Homo sapiens: one gene and its partners. The protein of the gene in region 1 purifies or fractionates together with the protein of each later gene. This does not show direct contact. Each region holds a gene or a part of one and is shown on either strand. Other genes may lie near its edges.

Region 1 (3,705 bases):
TTAGTAGACACGAGGTTTCATCATGTTGGCCAGGCTGCTCTTGAACTCCTGGCCTCAAGTGATCCACCCATCTTGGCCACCCAAAGTGCTGGAATTACAGGCATGAGCCACCACACCTGGCCAAGCTACTTTAATAAATCACAGTATAATAGATTTACATTACTATTGGCTAATGTAAAAAACTTGATTCATTAGTTGTTGAAGTACGGATATTGTGAGCTGAATTAAGATTTTAAGCCTATCTCCAAAAGTTCATTTATAACTTGATTGTTGAGAATGCACTCTGCCACAAATTAAAAATCCCAAATGAAATAGCTAATATGTTTCAAAGCAAAGTATGAAGAAACTGATCAGATTTGGCAATATAGGCATATACCTGCATCGGAGAATGTAAACCTCGTCAGCACCATGAGGTAATGTTAGCATTTTCTTCTTGCTTCCAGATCTTGACCTTGATTTCTTTTGCTTACAATCTAAGGCTAAAAAGGGGAAGAGAAAGACTTAACATTCCTTATATATTTCAAAATATACATACACACATATTTTTCTAGAGAGGTCAGACAGACCATCTAAATCAGTTAGAAAAAGTCCGCATTCATTTCCCTATTCCCTGAAGCATGCATTCAACTTGCTGATTCTGTAATAGCAGTAATATTATCTGTACTGTACAGCGGTATTATCTGTACTGAAGAATACTATCTGTATTCTTCCTATACTGCCTTTTCAAATAATGCTTTACCACACCAAACTAGAACTGAGAAAATGTAACTAAATAACTTGAAAGTACTAAATTGGTCAATTATTACAATAATGGTAATCTTTACTTTTATAATCATACATAATTTTAATATCTGGTTTAATCTTATTTCCAGAAAAGTAGAACCTTTTATTTGAGATCATTAAATTAAGTTTGCATTTGATTACTGCTCCATTAAGTAGGTCTTCTATACTTGGAAAACTTCGTAAGGGAATATGGATAATGTAATTAAAAGCTCAAGGAAAAATCAATTTTCATAGTGATTCACCATGAATTTTATAATAAATAGCTCTTAAAATTGTATGCTGGCCCTACATTTGAAAGGACAAAAAAAGCTCAACTTTCATTTTTGAACTTAATTTGTATTGCATATACAATAATCAATTATGCAATCATATAAGTTTTATTTTACTAGAAAATAAATATAAATCCATATTATCTCACGTAAGTTTACAATTGGATCTGATGTTTAATGCTAACTATTCTTTACATATTTTTCATTTTACATTTTCTCCAACTGCTTATTTTAAAATGTGATTTGAAAAGGTAAAAAAAAAAATTAAAATAGACCAAAATTTTATGTGAACTGTTCTTGAAATTTTTCCATTAATTGACTTTTCCTTTATTTATTCTAAAACAACCTGATTTTAAAAAGAAAAAAAGGTATTTTTTATAGGTAGCAATAGATAGCACATAACATTTTATAGGTCTTTGAATACAGCTACACCATTTCTTTGGACAAAGGGATGATAGCAATCCAGGGTGCTGCTGGTCAATTAGCAGGAAGAGAAGGTAAGAATTTATCTGTAGGGATCCAAGGGGGGAGGGATACAAATGTAACAGAAGAGTTACCCAAATGGCTTTTCTTCCATTATCCTGCCATGTGAAAAATTCCCTGGAAAAATTCTAAGTAAGAGAGAAGGAACTGGCTGTTCAATGACTCTGTGAAACGAATTGTTCAAAGTCCAGATTCCAAAAGAATAGATGCTACTATTACAAAACCAGTAAACATAGTTCCTTAGTCAAATGGCAATGATAACAGAAATGTCATATAGAAAATTCAAAACCACAAGAAACCTAAATCTCATTGAAGCCACTGGTTTCAGCTTCCTGTCACCTGCCTATTCAAAAGTAAAATCTAGGACACAGTCTTTTTCTGTTTATCCTTAGAAGAAGAGTCTAATAAGTAAAGAACTACTAGAAGTCAAGTTAGGTATTAAAGAATGGGTAATTCAAAGCTAAACAACCAAACTCTGGAATAGAAAAATCTTATAAGGATCTTATTAGTTATCTCAGTCAAGAGCCTCGCATGTAGTAGGAACTCAACAAATACTTCTGGAGTAAAAATAAAGCAAAACTCAGTAATTTAACCATTGATATTTAGACAGCCTATGAATGAAAATGTTTTACTCCTATTTAATACAGGTAATATTCCTGTACAACATTGTGCATCATTTGTTTAAATATGTTGCTGCAGTCACACATACTTCATTATCCTAGATATAAATCACTGACCAGCCAGCTTATGTACAGAAACTAGGTTATTCACAACAACTACAAGAGTGAAATACCTTATGCTTTGTACCCAGTAGGAAAAACCTTTTTCCTAATCGCTTTGGTGAGCAATCTGAATTTAAGTGGGTTATGAGTGATTCATACACTAGAAATAGAGTTCAGGGAACTCAAAGAGTAAGTGCTACTAGATGTCAGCTATTCTTTCCATCTGTAAAGATGGATCCTTGTCTGTGTTAGGCAGAATAGAGCAGGCATTTGGTGTATCATAAGATTACAGGTAGAATCTTACTTTGATGAGCTTGCTGGTTGTCAAAATTGCCACACTGTATTCAAACTCCTTTTAAAATGCAAATAAATTACTGTAGGATACAAATAGAATACATTATAACAACCCTTAAAAATTTGTTCACAGAATGTTAATGTTAGGGGTGTAAAGCAAATTGAGGAAGAAGGGCAGGAGGATGGTAGGGAAATATGCAAAAGAACATTTTATCAGTTACAAAAGCATTTAAATTTACATGTTGTTAATATTTTAAAAATGGAACTGGAAATGTTTATTCTAAAATACAGAAATATTTTTGGCTTTTTCTTTAATAGGGAAAAAAGAATTATTTTATGGCTTTTGATGCTTTATGGACTGTGGAAACTCTTAAGTTTAGGCTGTTTTATGAATGATCAGATCTAAACTTGAAATGAGAATGCCATCATTTTTGTAGCAATGAGTATTTGAAGGTATTATAACCTTGGAAAGCAGGACAACTCTGCCAGCTTATGACTGATCAATCATCTCTAGAACCCAGGGCTCCAAAGTTAAGGTTACAGAATCTCATGCACTGAGAATCCCTAGAAACTTATTCACAAAGTTAAAATATTAAAAATCTGGGAACTTTGGAAATTGAAATCTAAATGCCTCAGTGTTTTAATATCTTCATCAATTCTAGATTTATTATCTCCTGAAATGTTATATTTTTGAGCAGGTGAAACATGAACATATTTTACAATAGTTTTTCTAATGCCAATATCCAAACCCACTCCTGTGATACTGCCCATACCTTTGGGAAAATCTGTTTAAAATTGAGTATTTAACATATTAAAACTGCACAAAAAGGGGACATCTATATAGGATCCTCTACATAAAAGGATGATTTACACAGAAAATTTCAATAAATGAAAAGGATGAGGTAGAAACATGTCTGTTATACCAATATTCTCACTTAAGAGATTTTATTATATCTAGAGGGAAAAGTAGTTTTGTTCTGGACTGTACCAGGAGCCACTAGAACATTAAATACAGATCACTAACACATTCAGTTTTAATATAATGCAGCTCATCAGTATCTGTGATAAACAGCCAAAGCTTTAACAGAGTTGTTTATATGAATAATCTGCCAAATAGATAACTGTTACACAAAGCCTTTTTTTGTAATAGGATT
Region 2 (4,089 bases), about 51 Mb from region 1:
CCTTGTCTCAAAAAAAAAAAAAAAAAAAAAAAGACTCAACCCTTATTTTCCATGATATCCAGTTTGGCCACTTAATTGTTCAGGATGTAGTCATGGAATCTAGAGTCCTATACTTTTCTGCTTACAAAATTAAATATATAAAGTAACTTAAGCTAAAATTAAGTGCCATTTTCTTTAGTTTATCCCTTGATGCCATGATTAACAACTTCTGCATTCCCCAAACATGGAGACGTCATTACTTTAAAAAGAAAAAACAACTTTCACATTTAAAGATTTCACAGCAAATCATCACCCAAATAAGTAAACATGCCTCTGTATATTCTTTAGTTATCTACTTTTCAAATTCACTCTAAAATATTACATTCTATCTGTCGAGCAGTTAAATATACAATTAAAATCATACATTTTGGTAGCCTGAAAAAAATGAATCTTGGTTTTCATTCTAAAGGGAAAAAATAAACCATGCAATATATATATAAATCTATTAAATTAATACCAAGTTTGAATGACAACAATTATTTACTCACCTCCTTAATAGCATCTTCATTAGGGAGCATAGAACATAAACATGTGATATAGGCTTGCTGAAAAGATGACACATTTGAAATTTCTTTAGATTCTGCACATAGTTTTGATAAAGCAGTAGCCTGGGGGATGCAGTTAGATTTCAACAAATGTTTTATTCGCATTTGCAGAAAGGAAGGTCCTTCTTGTGCAATCAATTTATTGACTAGAAAAAATGAAAAATAAAACAGTTTGACAACATACCACATAACATGTCAGACTTGCTAAGATGAAAGTTTGAGATCTTTTTATTTGATTTTTAGTTAATAAAAATTTAGTTTATATAAATGAGAAGTTTACTCTGGTCTCAATATTCATCTAATAGAGATGAGAGGAAAATTAAGAAATAGTGAAATGAACTATAAGCATAAATGCAAGAAATGAAGCAAGTAACCTATGTAATATTAACAACTATCAACTGAATGCTTACGAGACATCAAGTTTTAAGCTGCATATTTTTATATACCTCTCATTTATTCTTCACACCACCACCAAGGCAAGTATTATTATCCCCAGTCTAAGGTTAGGAAAATTAATATTCACAGAAGTTAGGTAACTTGCCAAGGATTCCAAAGCCAGTGGTGCTCTTTCCTCTAAACCAGGCATTTCTCAAAGTGTGTTCCACCGACCAAAAGACCTGAGAGATAGTCCTAGAAAAAAAAAGGATTCCTTGGTCAAATCTCTGAACAGTCCTGCAATAAAGAAAACTGTTCACTTTTATTTAAAAACCCAATGTTTCCTAAACTGATTTGACCAGAGAACCCTTTTATACATATTAGTAACCTGTAAAACATGTGTTCCTGGTTCAGTACACACTTTGGAAAATGCTACTCTGAAAGCTTCAGAAGTACTGAAGCTCAGTACTTCTGAGCTGTACTGAATATTAGGCACTTGGCATTGACTGTACAGTGCTCTGGATGAGCCCTCAAATTTTTTTTTTTTTTTTTTTTTTGAGATGAAGTCTTGCTCTGTCACCCAGGCTGGAGTGCCGTGGCGCGATCTTGGCTCACTGCAAGCTCCGCCTCCCGGGTTCACGCCATTCTCCTGCCTCAGCCTCCCGAGTAGCTGGGACTACAGGTGCCCGCCACCATGCCCGGCTAATTTATTGTATTTTTAGTAGAGACGGGGTTTCACCGTTGTTAGCCAGGATGGTCTCGATCTCCTGACCTCATGATCCACCCGCCTTGGCCTCCCAAAGTGCTGGGATTACAGGCATGAGCCACCGCACCCGGCCGAGCCCTCAATTTTTGAATAGTAAATATCCAACAAGTATGTGACATCACTACATAGTATTACTTAAAGAATAGAGGTGAGAATATTGCATGTCAAGCCAAGTGGTGAGTAAACAAACTGCTTTAGGTGGTTAATCTAAAACAGTATCTCTCAGACTTGAAAGTGCCTAGATCACCTAGGGAGCTTATTAAAATGCAGATTCTGATTTATTAGGTCTGGGACCTGAAATTTTGCTTTTCTCACAAGCTCCCAGGTTGCGGGGGGGGGGGGGGGGGTGTGTGTGTGTGTGAGGTGTGGGGGGGGTGTGTGTGTTTGTGTGTGTAGAGTAGCAATGGTTTATACTAAGGATAAACCACTGGGGTGTGTGTGTGTAGAGTAGCAATGGTTTATACTAAGGATAAACCAGTGTGTGTGTGTGTGTGTGTGTGTGTGTGTGTGTGTGTGTGTGTGTGTGTGTGTGTGTGTGTGTGTGTGTGTAGAGTAGCAATGGTTTATACTAAGGATAAACCACTGGCCCAATTTTAACTACATATGAGAATCAATCGTAACATTATCCTTTAAAATAATATAAAGAAAAACATATATATATATATAATCACAGATTTCAAAAGGACAGAAAAAGCTATACAGTTAAAGTTTTTCTCCCTCCTACCCTGACCCCAGTGCTCTGGTTTCCCACCCTGAGAAACAACAAGTTTCCAATTTCTTGTTTATCCTTCCAGAAATATTCTATGAGTATGGAAGACATTTTCTTTTGCCACTTAATATATGATACAGGTTATTCTATCATCTGTGCAGTTAGAGCTATCTTCTTATTTTTAACAACTGAATAGCATTATGTGGTATGGATGTGCTATAATTTATTTAACCAATCCCCTACTGATACACTTGCAGGCTGTTTCCAATCTCTGTCAATCATCAATAATGCTGCAACTTACAACCCTATATACAGGTAATCTGAAACATGTGAATAAATCTACACAACAAATTCCTAGATGCGGAATTGCTAAATTAAAGGCTCTGTTCATTTGTAATACTGACTCATACTGCCAAACTGCTCTCCAAAAATTGTACCAATTTATATTCCCATCAGCAATATGTAAGTGCCCATTTCCTAAGGCACTTCAAAAAGTTCTGGATTCCAGAGCTCCAACTCTGGAGATTATGATTTAGCAAGTGGAGTCTGGACCTTGGGATGTATGTTTTTTGGTTTTAAATTCCATAGATACTCTAATATGTAGTCAAGGTCAAAAAGCATGGAGGGAAAACAGGTCACAATCACTTGGACTTTTCCATTTTAGTCCCACAGTTACTAAATTCCACAAGATGAACTCACGGTCATACCCTTCACTCACATAGCTCCTTATTCCCTACTTCTATTTTCAGCAATGATATTCTCTCAATTATACAACAATAAAATTTTGGAATTATCTTTCCTTGATACTTCCTTTCCTCAAGGAAATCAACTTAGTTATTATGTCCTAGTAATTCTTTTCTAATTATCTCCAATCTAAATCATGCCTATTATTTCCTGTCACGTCTCCCCTATATCCTATTCTGCCTGCCTAACATCAGATTCTGCTCTATTTACCTGCCATATGAGGTTGTAAGCAATTCTGCAAATCCAACAGGAAGCAACATACCTGATAACAGGCATATTACCTACACAACCTATCGCCTTGCAAATTCCCACAGCATTTTACTTCTTTCCCCACATTTAGTTTTCTCGAAGAACAGTGATAAGGGATTATAGTGTACAAACGTTAACATTTCAGGTTTTAGAATCACTGATCTGATGTTGAAACCTGATTCTGACACACAGCTGTGAGACCCTTGGACAAATTAACTGACCTCTCTGAGACTCAAGTTTCTTCATCTGTAAAAAGGTTATACCCATCTCACATGGATGAACAAATTAAAGAAATACTAGAAATGCAGATAAGACTCACCACAAGGCCAAACACGGAGTAAATGTTTAATAGTACTTACTATTGTCTCTGATATCTCCTTTATTACACTGTCAGCAATTTGTGAACAAATATCATGTCTTGTTAGCCTTTGTATTCCCTACAGCACTAAGCACAAGGGCTTGTATATTACGGATGTTTAATTAAACCATGCACTTAGCAACTGAAGGGTCATCACTCTCCAATCAAAAACATTTTAACGTCACCTCACCTGGGCTCAAATTCTGCCTCCACAATTGTAACTACATGGTCTTGGGTATGTGTAATCTCTCACCTGTTTCATGGATTACATGAGATATGAAAGCACAAATACAGTGCCCAACAC
Region 3 (4,089 bases), on another chromosome or scaffold:
GGAACTACAGGCGTGCGCCACCATGCCTGACTAATTTTGTATTTTTAGTAGAGACGGGGTTTTGCCATGTTGGCCAGGCTGGTCTCGAACTCCTGACCTCAGGTGACCCACCTCCCAAAGTGCTGGGATTACAGGCATGAGCCACCACGCCCAGCCAGTTTCCTTCTTATAACAGGGAGGGAAGAGCAACTCTTTTCCCTTGAGATTGAGAGTCAAGGCAGAGATGAGTTTGTATAAACAAATTTTACTAAAATAACCGTTATTTTCCATTAGTTCTCCCATTTTTTCTAGTCACTTTCCCATGGTTTATTGTCCCTGAAATTCCAAGTTCCCTTTTTTGGGGGGGTTAAAATAGTATAAAAGCCTCTACGTCTAACCACTTGTTTGAGTTTCACTTCTTTTCTGTGAACTCCTGTGCATGTCAATATTAATAAAAATTGTATGCTTCTTCTCTTGTGAATCTGTCTTTTCATAGTTTAATTCACAGGCCATGAGATACTGAACCAAAGGTGATAGAGGAATTGTTTTCCCTCTCTGACATAGACTACAAAAATGTCTTCAGTTTTCCATATGTCTTTGAAAATTGATGCAATATTTTTGCAAAACTATAAGAAAACTGGAAAATAAATGAGAACAATTAAGGCTAATGCATTAGTCATGATTTATTTCACTGTTGTATTATTCTTTTAGGCAGTCCTATTATTTTTTTAGCATAGTTGGGATTAATTGATGAACAATGGTGAAATAATACCTAGAATGATGGAGTTAGCAAAATATTTCAAGATGTAGGAAAAATAAAGCCACTAACATCCCATAATGTATTTTAGATTGATAAAAGGATTCTGTTATAGACCCACATAATAATTATAAGATATAATGAGTTTTAATCTATTTTAAAGTAGTAAGTAAATTTTCCCTTCTTTGTTTAAAGATCTCTAGGAAACAATGTGAATAATGTCAGTCTTTCTAAAAAGAACTGCTCAAGAAAGAAAGTAAAAAACTAGTTTCCTTTGGACTCTGATAGTATACTGGACTTTAATGGTTAATTTGGACAGTTAGAGTTCCACCCCTCTCCAATACACACATTAAACCTACCTGCCTCTTCTACTTCCATAATAGGTTTTTTTTTTTAGCCTGTTGTACTTTAATACATCTCTAATGAATACAGGCAGTACCTAGAAAGTTGTTCCTTGAGGTTTCTGTTCTAAAGTTTTTTTGTTGTTACCAGTTTTTTTTTCTTAAACCTTTCTTCCAAGCTTTACCTTCAGAGACCCTTCATAATAAAAAATTATTAATTGGAACCCTGGCACATCAGGCCAACGTTGTATTTAGGCTTTTTGCTTAAATGGATTACACCAAAAAATATTTCAGTCATTTTCATTGCAAACATTCCTGTTTTTCTGGTTTTATATAACAGGATGAAGACAAAGTAATTTTTGGGATGATGTATGCCTTGTTTCTTTGTGTTTGTAAACACAATGCCTTACACATAATTAATGTTCGATAAATACTTAGTTTTTTTTTTTAATCACCTGAATATTCCCCAACAGTTTAAAATTATTGCTTTACTTTTTGGATTGGTATGTAACTTACAAATTTTTGACCAGCTAGCATAGTAATTTAGCTTTCTTTTTTAAAAAGGGCTTTGACTTGTGTTTATCTAGTACAGTAGTTCTCTAAATGTGGTCTTGGGCTTGAGACTCTTTGAAGGATTCTACTAGGTCCTCCCTTTACCACATACTTTTCCTGTGAAGCTGTATTTTCTTCAACAGAAGAGTGTAGTGCAACAGGTTGAATGCAGAAGGTCGTAAGAGAATCCAGCTGTCTTTATTAAGACAATGAGGTATGCAAAAATGTAGCAAAAATGTAAAACAATACCACTCTTTAAATTTTTTGTTTTGAGAAATACACTTTTTTTGTAAAAATATATTAATATGTGCTGCTTTCATTATTATCATCTTTAAGTAAATGAATACATATTGAAAAAAATTTCTCAGGTTTGGGGTTTCTGGACTCCCAGGCAAAGATTCCATCCTTAAAGTTTAGTCAACCACACATCTTTTTTTGATCAGGTTTGGGATTTTTTTTTTTAACATTATTAACTGAATGCCTTTGAGTTGATACGCATTTTGACTAGGGCTAGTAACCAAAGCAAAGATGATCAGTCTATGAACTAATTTGCCCTTTGCTTCTAGGCTTCACTCCTGTGCGTTCCTTATTTTGTGGGTTACCTTTGGCAAATCTAAGAAGCTAAGCCTGGAGGGGCTTGAGAGAGGCCTGGGGGTTTTAGGTATAATCCTAATCTCTGTCGTATCTCTTGCTTTTTTTACTTGCTCTGCTTTTCCTATTCAAGGTTTAAGATTATCTGACTCTCAGCTATACAGGATTGCTGACTGCTGCTAGAAAGGCCTTCATAACCAAAATGCAACATGGAAATAGCTTTCTTACATTCCATGAGAAAAAAAATAGATCTGACAACGTTATTGAATAGAAAAAGGTAAATAAGAAAATTGGCACTACTTCAGTGACACTACATTGTAGTGTCTGTTCATTTGAGAAGTTATACACAACAGATGTCTTTCTATTCTTTGATTTCTTTTATTGTAGTGTTTTAGAGATTATAAAGTATGTTCACAGTTACCGTATTCCATCATCAGAACAAATACTTCTTTGCAAAAGGCGGTGTTATCATCCTTTACAGATGAGGAAATCAAGTCTTAGAAAAAGTTCATTTTATTCATTGGAATAACACTGGGTGCCAGATATTGTGTATTCATTTTATAAGATACGATGCCTTGGTTTTCCCTCACTTCACCGTCAGCCTTTTTATCTCAGAATTACATGTTCTCTTCTATTTGGGCTATACAATGCAGGTGAGCCTTACAGGCAGGCAGTGACAACAACTGTTAGAAGTGTTGCCTCCTTAGAGCATTTGACCTGTTCTGCACCTCACTGCACCTGGAAGCTTTTAACACTAGGATAACCTAACCGAGCTCTGCTTAGGTTGGAAAGTTATTAAACAATTTGGAATTGGTAAATGACAGAATGAAAGCATTATTTTAGTAAATTGTTAATTTGGGGGCTCTTTATTGAAGAGATGAAAGCAAAAATCTGGATGCTGAGAGACCAAGTACAGACAGTCCCCAGCTTAAGATGGTTTAACTTAAGTTTTTTTGACTTTATGATGGTGTGACAGCAATATACATTTAGTAGAAACTGTACTTCAAGTTTTGAATTTTGATCTTTTTCCGGGCTAGTGATATGTGGTATGATACCATATTGTGATACTAGGCAGCAACAGCAAGTTGCAGCTACCAGTCAGCCACATGATCATGAGGGTAAACAACTGATAACATACAGTATACTGTGTTGTCAGATGATTTTGCCCAACCACAGGCTAATGTAAAGGGTTCTGAGCACGTTTAAGGTAAGTTAGACTAAGCTGTGATGTTCGGTAGGTTAGGTGTATTGAATGCATTTTCAACTTACGATATTTTCAGCTAATGATGGGTTTAATCATTACCCCATCACAAGCTGAAGAGCAACTATATAAAGTGAATCTTATAAAGTAAATCTATTTCACTTTAGGTGTGAGGTTCTATGGGCGTGGTCAAGTATTGAGTGGATGGAGAGGCAAGGATGGTGTGGGAAATATTTTGAAGGAAGTCTATAGGGTTGGGGAATTGACTAGATATAATTAAAAGAGGGAGACATTGAAAAAAACCTCCAGGGATTCAAGATCAGAAGGATGGCAGTTTAGTAGAAAAAGGGAAATGCAAAAGTAAAACTAACTTTTATAATTTAAGGTAAGATTCATATAATTTCACCATTTAAAAATATACGGTTCACTGGCATTTAGTACATTCATAGTGTTGTACAACTGTCAACACTAATTCCATAATATTTTCAGCTCCTCAAAAGGAAACCTGTTACCCATTATTCTGAATATTAGATATAAATAGAATCAAACTGTGTGACTGACTTCTTTCACTTTCAAAGTTTCATGTTGTAGCATGTATCAGTACTTCATTTTAAAAAATTGCTAAATAATGCTACATTGTATTGATACACCACATTTTTTTCACTTTG
Region 4 (4,089 bases), on another chromosome or scaffold:
GGATCAGAGAGACAGGAATTGTTGGGAAGAGTCTCACAGAGGAGGGCACATTTAAAGGAGTCTTGAGGCCGGGCAGATCACATGAGGTCAAAAGTTTGAGACCAGCCTGACTAACATGGTGAAACCTCGTCTCTACTAAATACAAAAAATTAGCCGGGTGTAGTGGCACACGCCTATAATTCCAGCTACTTGGGAAGCTGAGGCAGGAGAATTGCTTGAACCCGGGAGGCAGAGGTTGCAGTGAGCCCAGATCATGCCATTGCACTCCAGCCTGGGCAGCAAGAGCAAAGCTCCGTCTCAAAAAAAAAAAAAAAAAAAAGGCCAGGCACGGTGGCTCACACCTGTAATCCCAGCACTTTGGGAGGCCGAGGCGGGTAGATCACCTCAGGTCAGGAGTTCGAGACCAGCCTGACCAACATGATGAAACCCCCATCTCTACTAAAAATACAAAAATTATCTGGGTGTGGTGGCGGGCACCTGTAATCCCAGCTACTCAGAAGGCTGAGGCAGGAGAATCACATGAACCTAGGAGGTGGAGGTTGCAGTGAGCCGAAATCATACCATTGCATTCCAGCCTGGGTGACAGAGCGAGACACCATCTCAAAAAAAAAAAAAAAAAGGAGTCTTGAAGAATGAGTTGGAATTTTTAAGAGAGGCGAGAGGGCAAAGAACATTCCAGGCCAATGAAAATACCTTGAGTAAAAAGACAAAGGCATGAAGGTCCACTGTATGTTTAAAGAACTTTTATGATGAGGAGACCAGCATGATGTGCTTGTGCTGGGGAAGCAGGGGGACGTCAGGCTGCCCCAGGTGTACAGGATCTTGAGGGCTGACCTTTATCTTCTAGGTAAGGGGCTTCTACTGAAAGTTTCCATGTGGGAAATGAATGTTCATTTTTTCCTTTGGAAGGAATTCTGGCAGTGGTGTGGAGGATGAATTCATTCACTACCAGCCTTCTGTTGGGAAGGGTGGGGTGAGGCGGGGTGTGTGTGGGTGCACAGGGCAAGAGCAGGCTGAGATGGGAGGCAAAAGACCTGTTGGAAGTCTTTTAGAGAAGGTCCAAAAGTAGGACAGGCGGACGGAGATGGAGAGGCGGGGGCTAATTTGAGAAACATTTTGGTGGTTCTATACTGTTGTCATTAAAAGCATAGATTATAGAGTCAGACAGTCCTAGATTTTAAGCCCTGCTTTGCCACTTACTGCTTGTATGAATTTGAATATTACATAACCTCCTCTTTGAGCCTTAGTTTTCTTGTTTATAAAATGGGGATGATAACAGCGCCTTACCTTCCAGGTGGTTTGGGGAAGTGAGATAATTTATGTAAAGCCCTTAGCATGGAGCCTAATACATAGTAAGCATGCAGTAAATGGTAGTTCCCATCTACCAGACCTAGGGATTAATAATGTATTAATTATTTGATTGGGGGTGGGAGTAAGACAGTTAAGAGTCACTTGTGATGGTAAGGGTGATTGGATATATAGAGATACATTGAATGAGTCAAATGAAGCAATGTTGAGTTTTATAAAGACAGTAAAGTTAATCTTAGACTAAACATAGATGGTCCTCCATTCTACATCTGGAGTTCGCTTGTGAGCAGAGCATTGCTCTCTTTGGAGATGGGAACCCATGGGCCGCACAGCACTGCCCTCTAGTGGCTAATAAGCAGAACAGCCAGAAGGTGGCCCCCAGCACATGAGCCCACACTTTCATGTTCTCTGCCCTCTTTCCTTCCTCCACCAAAATAAAGCAGATGTGGGTGGATCGGCCCACAGGTGGCTGGCTGAAGAGTTGGTAAATCTGGTCAAACATTTACATTCAAATCTATCATCCGTGCTTACTGAGAGGAGAAATTGCCTAGATAAGGAGTAGCTAATCATACACGTTTCCTGTTTGTGTTCACTCTTTCCCCATCTCTCCGCCTGGCTCAGCCCTCTGGTAGATTACCTAGAAATGTGTATGGGCAGCAGCAGCTCTCCATGGTTAATGGACAGCGTAGGATGAAGACACCATGTTAAGGGTGTTTCCGTTGTGCCAATTAGTGTGGGAGTTGGAAAATTTGTCAAATTTGCAATGTCAGGTTTCTTCCTATTCTTTGGTTCACAGGGTTACCCCTCTTTGTCCAGCGCACAGTGGCCCGAACCATCGTTTTACAAGAGATTATTGGCAAGGGTCGGTTTGGGGAAGTATGGCGGGGCCGCTGGAGGGGTGGTGATGTGGCTGTGAAAATATTCTCTTCTCGTGAAGAACGGTCTTGGTTCAGGGAAGCAGAGATATACCAGACGGTCATGCTGCGCCATGAAAACATCCTTGGATTTATTGCTGCTGACAATAAAGGTAAGGGCTGGGCTTGGATACAGCATTCCCAGATAGAGGATGCTAGAGAAAGTGCATAGCTATGGGGTGCACAGCTCTGTTTGCCTTCATCATTGTAACCCGTAGAAAGAAAACTTGAGTAAGGTCAAGGTTTCCATGCTTTCCTTAAAGTGTGGAGCCTTTTATTCCATGAAAAGGTTATACAAAAATCCAGGTTATCAAGCAAATAAACAAGCAGTTCTTACTCAGATAAACAAGATACACCCCCTCACCCTACCTGCTCAATTTCTCTTTCTCCACTCCCCCAAACCCACCTCCATTGTAGTTCCTGCAGGGGGTCCCGTAAGCTTATTTTGAAAATCACTAGGATGGGCTGGGCGCGGTGGCTCACGCATGTAATGCCAGCACTTTGGGAGGCCGAGGCAGGCAGATCACTTGAGGTCAGGAGTTTGTGACCAGCCTGGCCAACATGGCAAAACCCCATCTCTACTAAAAATACAAAAATGAGCTGGCCACGGTGACACCTACCTGTAATCCCAGCTATTCAGGAGGCTGAGGCAGGAGAATTGCTTGAACCCAGGAGGCGGAGGTTGCAGTGAGCTGGAGGTTGCAGTGAGCTGAGGTCGCGCCACTGCACTCCAGCCTGGGCGACAGAGCGAGACTCCGTCTCAAAAAAAAAAAAAGAAAAAAAAAATCCCTAGGATGAGGAATTGCGGCCTCAACCCTGGCAAGGAGGATAACGACAGAAAAGCCTGTAGTCCACGAAGTGTCGCCTTCGGACTCTGCTCTTGGTCAGTCCTGTCCCTGAGGATTCTTTCCTTCTTCCTCTCCCTTTTATTGCTTTAGTTTTTGAATCTCTTATGTGCCAGGCACCTCCCTATGTTTGAGGACCTCATTGACTAGCAAAGGATGACGAGTAAGGGTGATTAGAGGAGGTAAACACGAGTTGTTCTGTTGAGCACAAATTGGGGCTGACTCGCACCTGAGCCCAGTTGAGACAAAGGTGGCAAGAACTGGTCAGGAAGAAAAATCTTCCTTGCAGGGAAGAGCACTGCAGACATGTGCAAAGGTGAGGTTTGGGGCCCAGCAAGTAACTTGGATGGCTGTGGGTGGAGAGGGAGGCAGAGGCCAGATTATGAGGGGCCTTTTTGAGAGGATTGTATTCCATTCTGAAGATAGTGGGTAGTAATTAAAATTTCATTCATTAATTCTATAACATTTATTGACTGCTGTGGGCCAGACCTCTGCTGGCTGCTTGGACCATCACACATAAGAGCAAGACACAGTCCCTCCCCTCACAGAGCTCCCAGGAAGAAGGGGACAGACACGTGGACAGGTAGTGGCACCCGGAGCACAGAGAGGATGCTGTGAGTGGCTGGTTCACATTGTGGAAGGGTCTCTCTAGCAGTTGTGACATGACTTGCTCCTGTGGCATGGTGCAATTTAGAAGTTAGTGTCTACAAAGCCTACAGAAGATGCTATTTGTTTTTCATTCCTGAAACAACAGCAGACTGCTCATTCCTCACATTGCCATGGGAAGTTGTAATGGTCTCTGCTGCCCCCAAGCTGAGGAGCCTTAGACTCCAATACAAGGGAGGAAGGGGAAGAGCAAGATTTTTATTCCCACTGAGTAAGCTATTCCTTTTTAAAACTATCACCTTTTGATAAAATTTAAATCTTATATGTTTTAAAAGGATCAAATCATGTCTTCTCTTTGAACTTGTTAGCAGGGTCCTCAGGACTTTGGGGCTGGTTAGAGTGCGAGAAGCAGTGTG

Evidence for each region. The genes of interacting proteins can lie anywhere in the genome.
Region 2: the proteins of ZNF644 (region 1) and RLF purify together in Homo sapiens (affinity purification with mass spectrometry, with the first as the bait; one large-scale study listed by BioGRID). This does not show direct contact.
Region 3: the proteins of ZNF644 (region 1) and ZNF280D purify together in Homo sapiens (affinity purification with mass spectrometry, with the first as the bait; one large-scale study listed by BioGRID). This does not show direct contact.
Region 4: the proteins of ZNF644 (region 1) and ACVR1B purify together in Homo sapiens (affinity purification with mass spectrometry; one large-scale study listed by BioGRID and IntAct). This does not show direct contact.

The regions. Positions count from the first base shown.
Region 1 is NC_000001.11:90,917,676-90,921,380, forward strand, and holds part of ZNF644 (zinc finger protein 644), read right to left. Parts: intron 480-3,705; coding exon 377-479; intron 1-376.
Region 2 is NC_000001.11:40,199,053-40,203,141, reverse strand, and holds part of RLF (zinc finger protein Rlf), read right to left. Parts: intron 1,215-4,089; exon of another isoform or gene 1,126-1,214; intron 731-1,125; coding exon 528-730; intron 1-527. UniProt on the Homo sapiens protein: May be involved in transcriptional regulation.
Region 3 is NC_000015.10:56,723,255-56,727,343, reverse strand, and holds part of ZNF280D (zinc finger protein 280D), read left to right. Parts: intron 1-4,089. UniProt on the Homo sapiens protein: May function as a transcription factor.
Region 4 is NC_000012.12:51,978,865-51,982,953, forward strand, and holds part of ACVR1B (activin receptor type-1B isoform a precursor), read left to right. Parts: intron 1-2,104; coding exon 2,105-2,335; intron 2,336-3,821; coding exon of another isoform or gene 3,822-3,944; intron 3,945-4,089. UniProt on the Homo sapiens protein: Transmembrane serine/threonine kinase activin type-1 receptor forming an activin receptor complex with activin receptor type-2 (ACVR2A or ACVR2B).